2 linked regions of the Homo sapiens genome follow. The protein of the gene in region 2 purifies or fractionates together with the protein of the main gene of each other region. This does not show direct contact. Each region holds a gene or a part of one and is shown on either strand. Other genes may lie near its edges.

Evidence for each region. The genes of interacting proteins can lie anywhere in the genome.
Region 1: the proteins of SLC11A2 (region 2) and NFXL1 purify together in Homo sapiens (affinity purification with mass spectrometry; one large-scale study listed by BioGRID and IntAct). This does not show direct contact.

What each region holds. Positions count from the first base shown.
Region 1 is NC_000004.12:47,911,269-47,916,278, forward strand, and holds the start of NFXL1 (NF-X1-type zinc finger protein NFXL1), read right to left. Parts: upstream 3,316-5,010; 5' UTR 3,097-3,315; exon of another isoform or gene 2,959-3,096; intron 2,938-2,958; 5' UTR 2,936-2,937; coding exon 2,701-2,935; intron 1-2,700.
Region 2 is NC_000012.12:50,994,434-50,998,912, reverse strand, and holds part of SLC11A2 (natural resistance-associated macrophage protein 2), read left to right. Parts: intron 1-1,940; coding exon 1,941-2,096; intron 2,097-3,125; coding exon 3,126-3,284; intron 3,285-4,282; coding exon 4,283-4,369; intron 4,370-4,479. UniProt on the Homo sapiens protein: Proton-coupled metal ion symporter operating with a proton to metal ion stoichiometry of 1:1. Selectively transports various divalent metal cations, in decreasing affinity: Cd(2+) > Fe(2+) > Co(2+), Mn(2+) >> Zn(2+), Ni(2+), VO(2+).

The DNA of each region.
Region 1 (5,010 bases), on a different chromosome or scaffold from region 2:
ACAATAAAACTATCAAAATACTGGTGATCAACTTCAAAATAAGGACTAACAAAAATTAAGATGTTTTAAAGTACATTGTGCACAGTAATTTTTAAGAAGTGAGGGAACATGTCCACAGTGAGCACATAAAGAATCAGGGAAGGTAGGTATTTCAAACTACCGTCTTCTGAACAACAGGTAGGATAGGACACGACGGCCCAGCCCAGTCCAGTCCAGCCCTACCAAAGAGTTTGTACCAACAGTACTCACTATGCACCCACTATATTTACAATCGGCTTCTTAGGTCAAGAACTTTTTGCCTTTATTATGGACTTCTTGTGGTCACACAAAAAAACATATTTTACATTAATCCACACAAAGTATTAACATGGAAAACATGTTTCTTCCAACTTCATTCCAAAAAGAATGTTAATTTTGGATTCGTTCTTCCACTATTCAGCACTACCTGTACTTCTCATTTTGTTACTTGATTAATCATGCAAAACAAAACCAGATTACTTCACTGCACATACTCCCAAAGAAACTTCAAACTTCTTGAGAGCAAGGACCACAGGGATTTTCTTCAAGCACTAAGTGTTAATAAGCTCTTACGGACAGCAAACATAGTTTAAGAAAGGAGCCACAAACCTGCAGAACTGATCTGAGTTCATGAATTCCCATCTTGAGAGGATTTTAAATTTACTGATTGACTATTTTAAAATTAACATTATACTTAAAACTGATAAGCCACTACCAAGATAAGCTCTCTTATCTTGGGTGGTATATTCGTACTTGATTATGTTCCCTCATGAAACATTTTCCTTTTCTTATTGCAGCCAGTTTGGTTAGGGGTTATTAACAAAACAAATTGAGTATTTCAAGTAAACCTCGACGAAAATGTGTATCATGCTTACCTAGCAAGCTTTGAGTACTGGGAAAAAAGAACTGGCTATGAGATATATAACTCAAAACTTGTCACAAAAGAGATGATAAATGTCATTAATATACGGGAAATTAGCACTTAAAAGATACATAAGAAAACAGGCTGAACTGGACAGAGATAATGAGAACATTCATAACCTGATAAATGTATTCACCTAACATCATCTCAAAGTAAAGAGAAGCTGACAAGACAACCTTCTCACGTATTATTTCTTACAGCCAAATCTCAACTGTCCAGGTAGAGAATGCTTGTTTTCTTTTTCTTTTCTTTCTTTTTTTTTTTTTTTTGAGACGGAGTCTTGCTCTGTCGCCCAGGCTGGAGTGCAGTGGGGCAATCTCGGCTACTGCAAGCTCCGCCTCCCGGGCTCACGCCATTCTCCTTCCTCAGCCTCCCGAGTAGCTGGGACTACAGGCGCCTGCCACCCCGCCCGGCTAATTTTTTGTATTTTTAGTAGAGACGGGGTTTCACCCTGTTAGCCAGGATGGTCTCCATCTCCTGACCTCATGATCTGCCCGCCTCGGCCTCCCAAAGTGCTGGGATTACAGGCTTGAGCCACCGCGCCCGGACAGAATGCTTGTTTTCCTTCTACCCACGAGATGGAGACCATCCTGGCTAACACGGTGAAACCCCGTCTCTACTAAAAAAAAAAAACCAAAGAACAAAAAACAAAACATTAGCCAGGCGTGGTGGCAGGCGCCTGTAGTCCCAGCTACTCGGGAGGCTGAGGCCGGAGAACGGCCTGAACCCAGGAGGCAGAGCTTGCAGTGAGCCGAGATTGCGCCACTGCACTCCAGCCTGGGCGACCAGCGAGACTCTGTCTCAAAAAAAAAAAAAAAAAAAAAAAGTTTACCAAACCTGTTCACACGTCTCCATATTGTATACCTTATCATCACGGCCATTAACTGCATGCTAAGAGAATACCACCTACCTTTCAAATTAGCCTAGGAGAAAAATCATTCAAGATACTCAATTCTGCTCCACACCCCCCAAAAAAATGTATCCTGAAATGCATTCCAAACACAAAAATAAAATGATTTCAGGGATTATTCCCTCGGCCCCATGCACAATTGTGTGTAAGTCCTCCCTGGCTCCACGAAAACATGGTCTTGGATGAAAAGTATTGATATATCGGAGGCAACACCAGATATGTCCACAGAAGGACATGGAATTTGTAAATAGGAACTACAGTCAAGGAAGGTATCAAAAGCTCAAGTGCTTACAAGGAATAAGACAAGTCAAGAAACAAAGGCAAAGGTAAAGATGACAAATGACACCTGGCTCCAGAAATGAGAGAGAATGTGAGATGGAATGCCCAAGTCCAATCTAAATGGGATTTCTGTGACTCAGCCGAGCTGACTGTTGCCATGCACAAAGATAACTAAAGCCACAAGGTTGTTAACCAGATTTTTAAAAACGACAAACAACCGCTGACAATCAATCCACATTTAAAACTCTGTGTTAACCAAACAACATTATAGACCAAATCAGAACACCGGGCCACAATTTACAACTGATGGTCTGGAGATTCAAGTAGGCAAGAGTGGAGGGAAGTAACAAAGGTAATACCACCTAAAATTAAGATGAAAGAGGTGCGATGGAAATCTACCTAGAGTGCCGAAAAGAGCAGCCACCCGAAAGGCTGGAGAAGTGGGCCCGATAACAAACTCCCGAACGAGGGGAAAAGCAGTGAAAGAAAGAAGGCGAGGGCGGAGGCGGTCCTGACTAGTAACTGCCTTAGGAGGCATCCAGGTGAGCACGCGGGCGGGAGCCATTCTCACCGCTGGCTGCGGTAGTCTGCAGGGCTTGGGATCCTGCGGGGCTGTGCCTGCTCCCTGCAGCCGCCGTGGTCGCGACTCCTCCGGGACTGGTGCCAGAAGGAACTGCGCCCACCGACCCCTTCTCTCGCCCTCCTCCGGCGCCGCGGAGATGGACTCCATTTCCTGAGGGGGCGGCAGTGGCCCGTCCCCGGGATCGGCCTCGGCCACCGGCCACCTGGCGCCAGGAAGCTTCCATCCCTGCAAAGGAGAAAAAAAAAAAAAAGAGTGGAAGGAGGTGAGCGCAGCGAGGACCGAGGCGAAGGAGGGTCAGTGCGGAAACCCGGTGTGAGGGGCCGAGTGAGGAAGGTTCCTGCAGGGCGGCGACCGGGTTTTAGGAGGTCGCGGCCCTGCCTTTACCGGAGGGCGAGTCCCCGCCAAGCCCGGGCTTTGGAGATGGACCGAAGAGGGGAGGGAGGACTAGGTACAGAAATAAACCGCGGAGCAAGAAGCACACAGTGCCGAAGACAGAAAGCCGGAGGAGAAGTCGAAACCGCCTCCTCAGCCTCTGCGGGAGCGTGGTAGGGGAAGAGTCACAGACTGACCCTGCGTCTCCCGCCGGGAACCAACTGCAGTGGTACACCCCACGGAAAGCTACGTCTCCTTACCGACTGCGCACGCCCCCAACAGACTACAACTCCCAGAAGCCCCCGCCCGCGTTCCGGCGACTGCGTGGCAGCACGGGCCGCTTCCTTATCCGGTAAAGTGCGGGGGTTGGGTGGGAGGGAAACCCCAAGCGCCTGCGCTGGCCCGAACAGGCCTTTGGGAACTACAACTCCCGGCGTGCTCTGGGGCTAGGGAGGGGTCGAAGGTCATAGGGGCGCGTGGTGGTGGAGGCGGGCGGGTCCGGAGGGTTTCGTGACCCCACAATTTGCTTCTGCTTCTGCAAGACTGCCCTAAACTCACCTGGGTATGAGGATTACATGGCTCTGTCCCTAATTGGCTCTCTGCCATCTTTTATTAGCCTTGCCTTTGAGCTTGCGGATGACAGGAGGTGTCAATGTAAAATAATCAAAAGCGCGAAGTTTGAGGATAGCCTACCTAGAAACACCGACTCCAAGGAAGGAGTCAGCGTTCCGAAGTAGAGATTTAAGATTTCACTTATATAGGCAGAAACTGAGAGGTTTTTTAGCAGGATTACAGCATTTTCTCATACAAGGTTAGAGAATAGTTACAACAATTTGATTATAGACAGTGTTTCTTTTTGGGAAGTGTACATTTAACATTTTTCATAAAGGATTTTCTGTCATCTGGTCTAAGCAAACCGGGGCAACAAAGCAGAAGTTAATCTATAAGGATCATTAAGAAGGCAGGAAGTTTTTGTCCTTAACTTCGTTTAATTCTCTCTAGCCATTGTATAGAACAAGAAAAATAAGAAAGCAAGTTAATCTATAATCTGAGAAACAGAAGTTGTAACCACGTGTAACTCAGATGACAGTCACATCTCTCTCCAGGCTTAGTGAGTTTTAGGCTCCAACAACCTTTAAACTATTTATTTTCATAGGGAAGTCTCACTAACAGGAAAGGCACTTACATTGAAAACGCTTTGAGGTTGGCCACTGTGAAGGAGGGAAATTCGGGGGAGAGTTGCAGGAAAGTGGCTTGAGTAGTAAAAGTACCCTTCTAAAATGCTAGAGCCAATGTAGAAAATAAATCTAAAGCCTGTTATTGTCATAGTCCTTTGTAGTGTGCAATGAGCTTTCCCTGGGACATGCTAATTTTTACCTTCACAGCATCTCCCTAAAGTAGATTTTGTTAAGGAAAATAGTTGAGGGCCAGGACCTAAATCTTATGATTTTGCTGAGTTTTCCAATAAGATACATGTGCATATATACTGACAGGTAGATTGCAAAAATTCATTCTGGGGTCTGTCTGGGATTGAGAAACATATTGATGGCTTATTGTACAGTCCTTCAACTTAGTTAATTCTTCTATTTTAACCATAAATTTCTATTATAATATTTAGATAGCATTTATTAGATGTCAGGCACTGTTTAAAGTGTTTTACGTTATGTATTAACTAATTTGGTACTCACAGTAACCGTGTTTATTATCCCCGTTTTACAACTGAGAACACTGAGGCACAGAGAGATTAAGCAATTTGCCCTTGATCATACAGCTAGGAAGTAGTGAAGCCAAGATTCAATCCTAAGTAGTCTAGTATTAGAAACCATGCTTTTAATGTCTTAAACATAGATATTGCAGAATTGCCTGTACATTAACCAAACTCAAAAATGACATCCCATGGCCAGGCATGGTGGCTCACGCCTGTAA
Region 2 (4,479 bases):
CAAGTTGACCATCTGACAACAGAACAGCCATGGATAGTGTTAATTAAGGAGGGGGTTGCAGGGTTATTCTTGGGTGTTAACTTACAGGAGTTCTGCTTTTGTTCATCCTGGTTTATATTAATTGCAGCTTGAACTTTCCCAATATTAAAACAGTTAATGAATTATATGAAATATACTGGATATTTCCTGGTTTGTGCCCCAACCCAGAAACTCCTTAGAGTCACTAATATTATTTGCAGTACTAGCACCTTTCTTTGTACAATTCTTATAAACTGATTTCTGCTTACTGGTCTGGCTGAACTTTAAAAAATATATGTAATCTATGGGTTGATTATGCCTCTTGGCCTAAGGCTTCCAAGAGAAATACTGAACCGGGGAAGAGTATATATGAGAGTGTTTAAGGATGAGTCTCTCATTACACACGTACTAGTGGCAAACAGCAAATGATTTTTAAATGAACATGGGTGAACAGAAGTATGCTCAGTATGGATAATAAAAATTGATTCTATATTCTTTTTTAATTTTTAGATTTTTATTTATTTATTTATTTTTGAGCCAGAGCGTTGCTCTGTCATGTAGGCTAGAGTGCAGTGGGTGTGATCTTGGCTCACTTGCAGCCTCCGCCTCCCAGGTTCAAGTGGTTCTTGTGCCTCAGCCTCCCAAGTAGCTGGGATTATTGGCGTGTACCACCATGCCTGGCTAACTTTTTGTATTTTTAGTAGAGATGGGGTTTCTCTATGTTGGCCAGGCTGGTCTTGAACTGCTGACCTCAAGTAATCTGCCCATCTTGGCCTCCCAAAGTGCTAGGATTTCAGCTGTGAGCCACTGTGCCTGGCCCTGGTTGTATATTTTTGAGCCTTGTGGAATTACTAATAACCACAAGTCCCTTAGCAGCTTTTTCTTTTTTCTTTTCTTTTTTTTTTTTTGAGATGGAGTCTCCCTCTTTCGCCCAGGCTGGAGTGCAGTGGTGCGATCTCTGCTCACTGCAACTTCCACCCCCAGGTTCAAGCGATTCTCCTGCCTCAGCCTCCCACGTAGCTGGGATTACGGGTGCCCGCCACCGTGCCTGGTTAATTTTTGTATTTTTCGTAGAGACGGGGTTTCACTATGTTTGCCAGGCTGGTCTTGAACTCCTGACCTCAGGTGATCCACCCGCCTTGACCTGCTAAAGTGCTAGGATTACAGGCGTGAGCCACCATGCCTGGCCTTTTTTTTTTTTTTTTTTTTTTTTTTGAGACAGAGTCTCACACTATTGCCTATGCTGGAGTTCAGTGGCACGATCTCAGCTCACCTCCTGGGCTCAAGTGATCCTTCCACCTCAGCCTCCCTAGTAGCTAGTACTATAGGTATGCACCACCACACCGAGGTAATTTTTGTAGAGATAAGGTTTTGTTGTGTTGTCAGGCTGCTCTTGAACTCCTGGGCTCAAGCAATGCGCCTGCCTTGGTCTCCTAAAGTGCTGGGATTATAGGCGTGAGCCACCGCACCCAGCCCTTTCTTTAGAAATTAATTATGTATCATACACATCTGTTTCATATATCTAAGATGTGTTGTAAACTATCCGGATACTCAGTCTTGAATTCTCTGGCCCCTAATAGTAAGCCCCTTATGTTGCTTGGTCCTATGATGATTCTGTATTCCTCATTATCTTAGGTAGTTGCAGAAGAAAAGATTTTGGCCAGGTGTGGTGGCCTGTAATCCCAGCACTTTGGGTGGCTGAGGTGGGAAGATTGCTTGTTCTTGGGAGATTGAGGTTTCAGTGAGCTGTGATCATGCCACTGCATTCCAGCCTGGGTGACAGAGCAAGATCCTATCTCAAAAAATATAAAAATAAGGAAGAAGGCATTGTAAGGGATAAAGGATGCTAACTGTTCCCTGGTACTATGTTACTCCCGTTTCACGTTCCTGTAAAGGCTAATCATTGTTATGTTGGTATGTAGTATGTTACAGTGAAACCCAGCCAGAGCCAGGTACTCAAGGGCATGTTCGTACCATCCTGTTCAGGCTGTCGCACTCCACAGATTGAACAGGCTGTGGGCATCGTGGGAGCTGTCATCATGCCACACAACATGTACCTGCATTCTGCCTTAGTCAAGGTGAGCAAGGCCCTTATCTCCTTCACCTCCTAGACAGTTCATGGGATCTTTTCCTTCAATTGCAAGGGACACAAAGTTAGTTTACAATTATTAGGACCATGAAGGAGCAAGGTATTTTCCAAGCCTGGACATTTATAAACTCCATATACTTAGATGCTGTTTTTATCACCAAATTGACCAGAGATTACTAACTGCATAAAGCAGGTGGGGCTAAAGTTCTTTTTTTTTTTTTTTTTAAATTGAGATGGAGTCTCACTCTATTGCCCAGGCTGGAGTGCAGTGGCGTGATCTCTACTCACTGCAAACCTCTCCCTCCCGGGTTCAAGTGATTCTCGTGCCTCAGCCTCTTGAGTACCTGGGATTATAGGCGTGCACCACCATGCCTGGCTAATTTTTCTATTTTTAGTAGAGATGTGGTTTCACCATGTTGGCCAGGCTGGTCTCGAACTCCTGAGCTCAAGCAATCCACCCGCCTTGGCCTCCCAAAGTGCTGGGATTACAGGCGTGAGCTACTGCACCCAGCTGGGACTAAAGTTCTTCATAAAAGGTTGGAAGTGCATCAAGTCTCTTGTGTTTAAATTTCAAAAGCTCGAGTGGCCTTATGGAGGTCAGGAGTAAAGGAGCCCAAACAGGCTTTTACTGTCAGTATTATGTAATAGTTTGCTGGGAGATTTTAGAAACCTTTATAAATAGGTATATGCACACCTTAGGACTGAAATCAGGTCGTTTTTATAGGTCAGTGGTCCTTCCAGCCACTGAGAGTAACTGAGAGCTCAGTAGTCATTTAGTCTCTGTTCCCTATTTGGGGAATGTACAGTTCAACGAAAGGGCATGAAGTTCTTTTTTCTCCCCCCATATGAAGTTCTTAATTGCTCAGTGAACTAGGATGTAGGTGAGTGTTGGATCTCTCACTTTTCGTCTGGTCAACTTTTGTCCCCTAAATCTCTCAGCTGACTCCAAACTCCTGAAATGTCACAAGGAAACTTGTTCTAACTGGTCAAAAAGTGACTGCTGTTGTTATCTTTCTAGTCTAGACAGGTAAACCGGAACAATAAGCAGGAAGTTCGAGAAGCCAATAAGTACTTTTTCATTGAATCCTGCATTGCACTCTTTGTTTCCTTCATCATCAATGTCTTTGTTGTCTCAGTCTTTGCTGAAGCATTTTTTGGGAAAACCAACGAGCAGGTGGTGAGTAAGCCAGGGTTATGGGTGGTAGTGAATGTGAGGGTAAAGTGAAGACTGCAATGGGATGGGGAAGGAAAATACCTCATCCTAGTGTTAATGTTCAGGAGAAATAATCTCTAGCTTCTCGTCTGCCCCCCAAAATCACTGTGCACCAGTCAGAGTCTACAGTATGGGGCTGACCAAGCCTGGACCCTCTTTCTCAGCTTTTGTTTGGGAGTAGTCAACAAACAGAAAACAGAAACTGTGATGATGACAGACTTTGTCTTGTCATTTTGAATTCTGTATCAATCTTGATTTCTGATTACCTATGTAGTGTTTTTTTTGAGACGGAGTCTTGCACTGTCATCCAAGCTGGAGTGCAGTGGCACAGTCTTGGCTCACTGCCTCCACCTCCTGGGTTCAAGCGATTCTCCTGCCTCAGCCTCCTGAGTAGCTGGGATTACAGGTGCCTGCCACCACACCCAGCTAATTTTTTGTAATTTTAGTAGAGATGGGGTTTCACCATGTTGGCCAGGCTGGTCTCAAACTCCTGACCTCAAGTGATCCACCTGCCTCGGCCTCTCAAAGTACAGGGATTACAGGCGTGAGCTCCTGTGCCTGGCCTGCCTGTGTAGTTTTGATCACCATTTGTTTCCCGTCTATGGAACCTCTGACTCCTCTGTCTGCTTTGACTGAGGATTCTATTCTGGGTGTTCTCTCATGTCTGAAGCCTTCTTCAGAGCCTCTCCTCTTGTCATCATTTAAAGTACCCCAGCGTTTGTACATTATTACCATGCACACTGTAACTCAGTAAAGATTTTTGATGACCTGTGGGTGTAGAAGGATTATAGAGGAAGATCCTAGATAACATTGCTGCTAGTCTCTGCCCACATCACAGCATATGTCCAGTGTTTTCCCTCCAGCCTACCTCTTATAGATGATTGTGTATGATATGTAGGAGAGCTCTTATTTGGTCCTTGCTTCTGAAACAAAAGTTGCTGTTGAATTGCTTTGGGTTCTAGGTTGAAGTCTGTACAAATACCAGCAGTCCTCATGCTGGCCTCTTTCCTAAAGATAACTCGACACTGGCTGTGGACATCTACAAAGGGGTAAGCATGTTTGGATTTGTGATCTTTGTTCCTGAATCAGTATTTTTAGCATAGTATGTGGTCTTTTTTGTGACTTCACTTCAGATATGAGCATATCTCCTCTGGAGTGT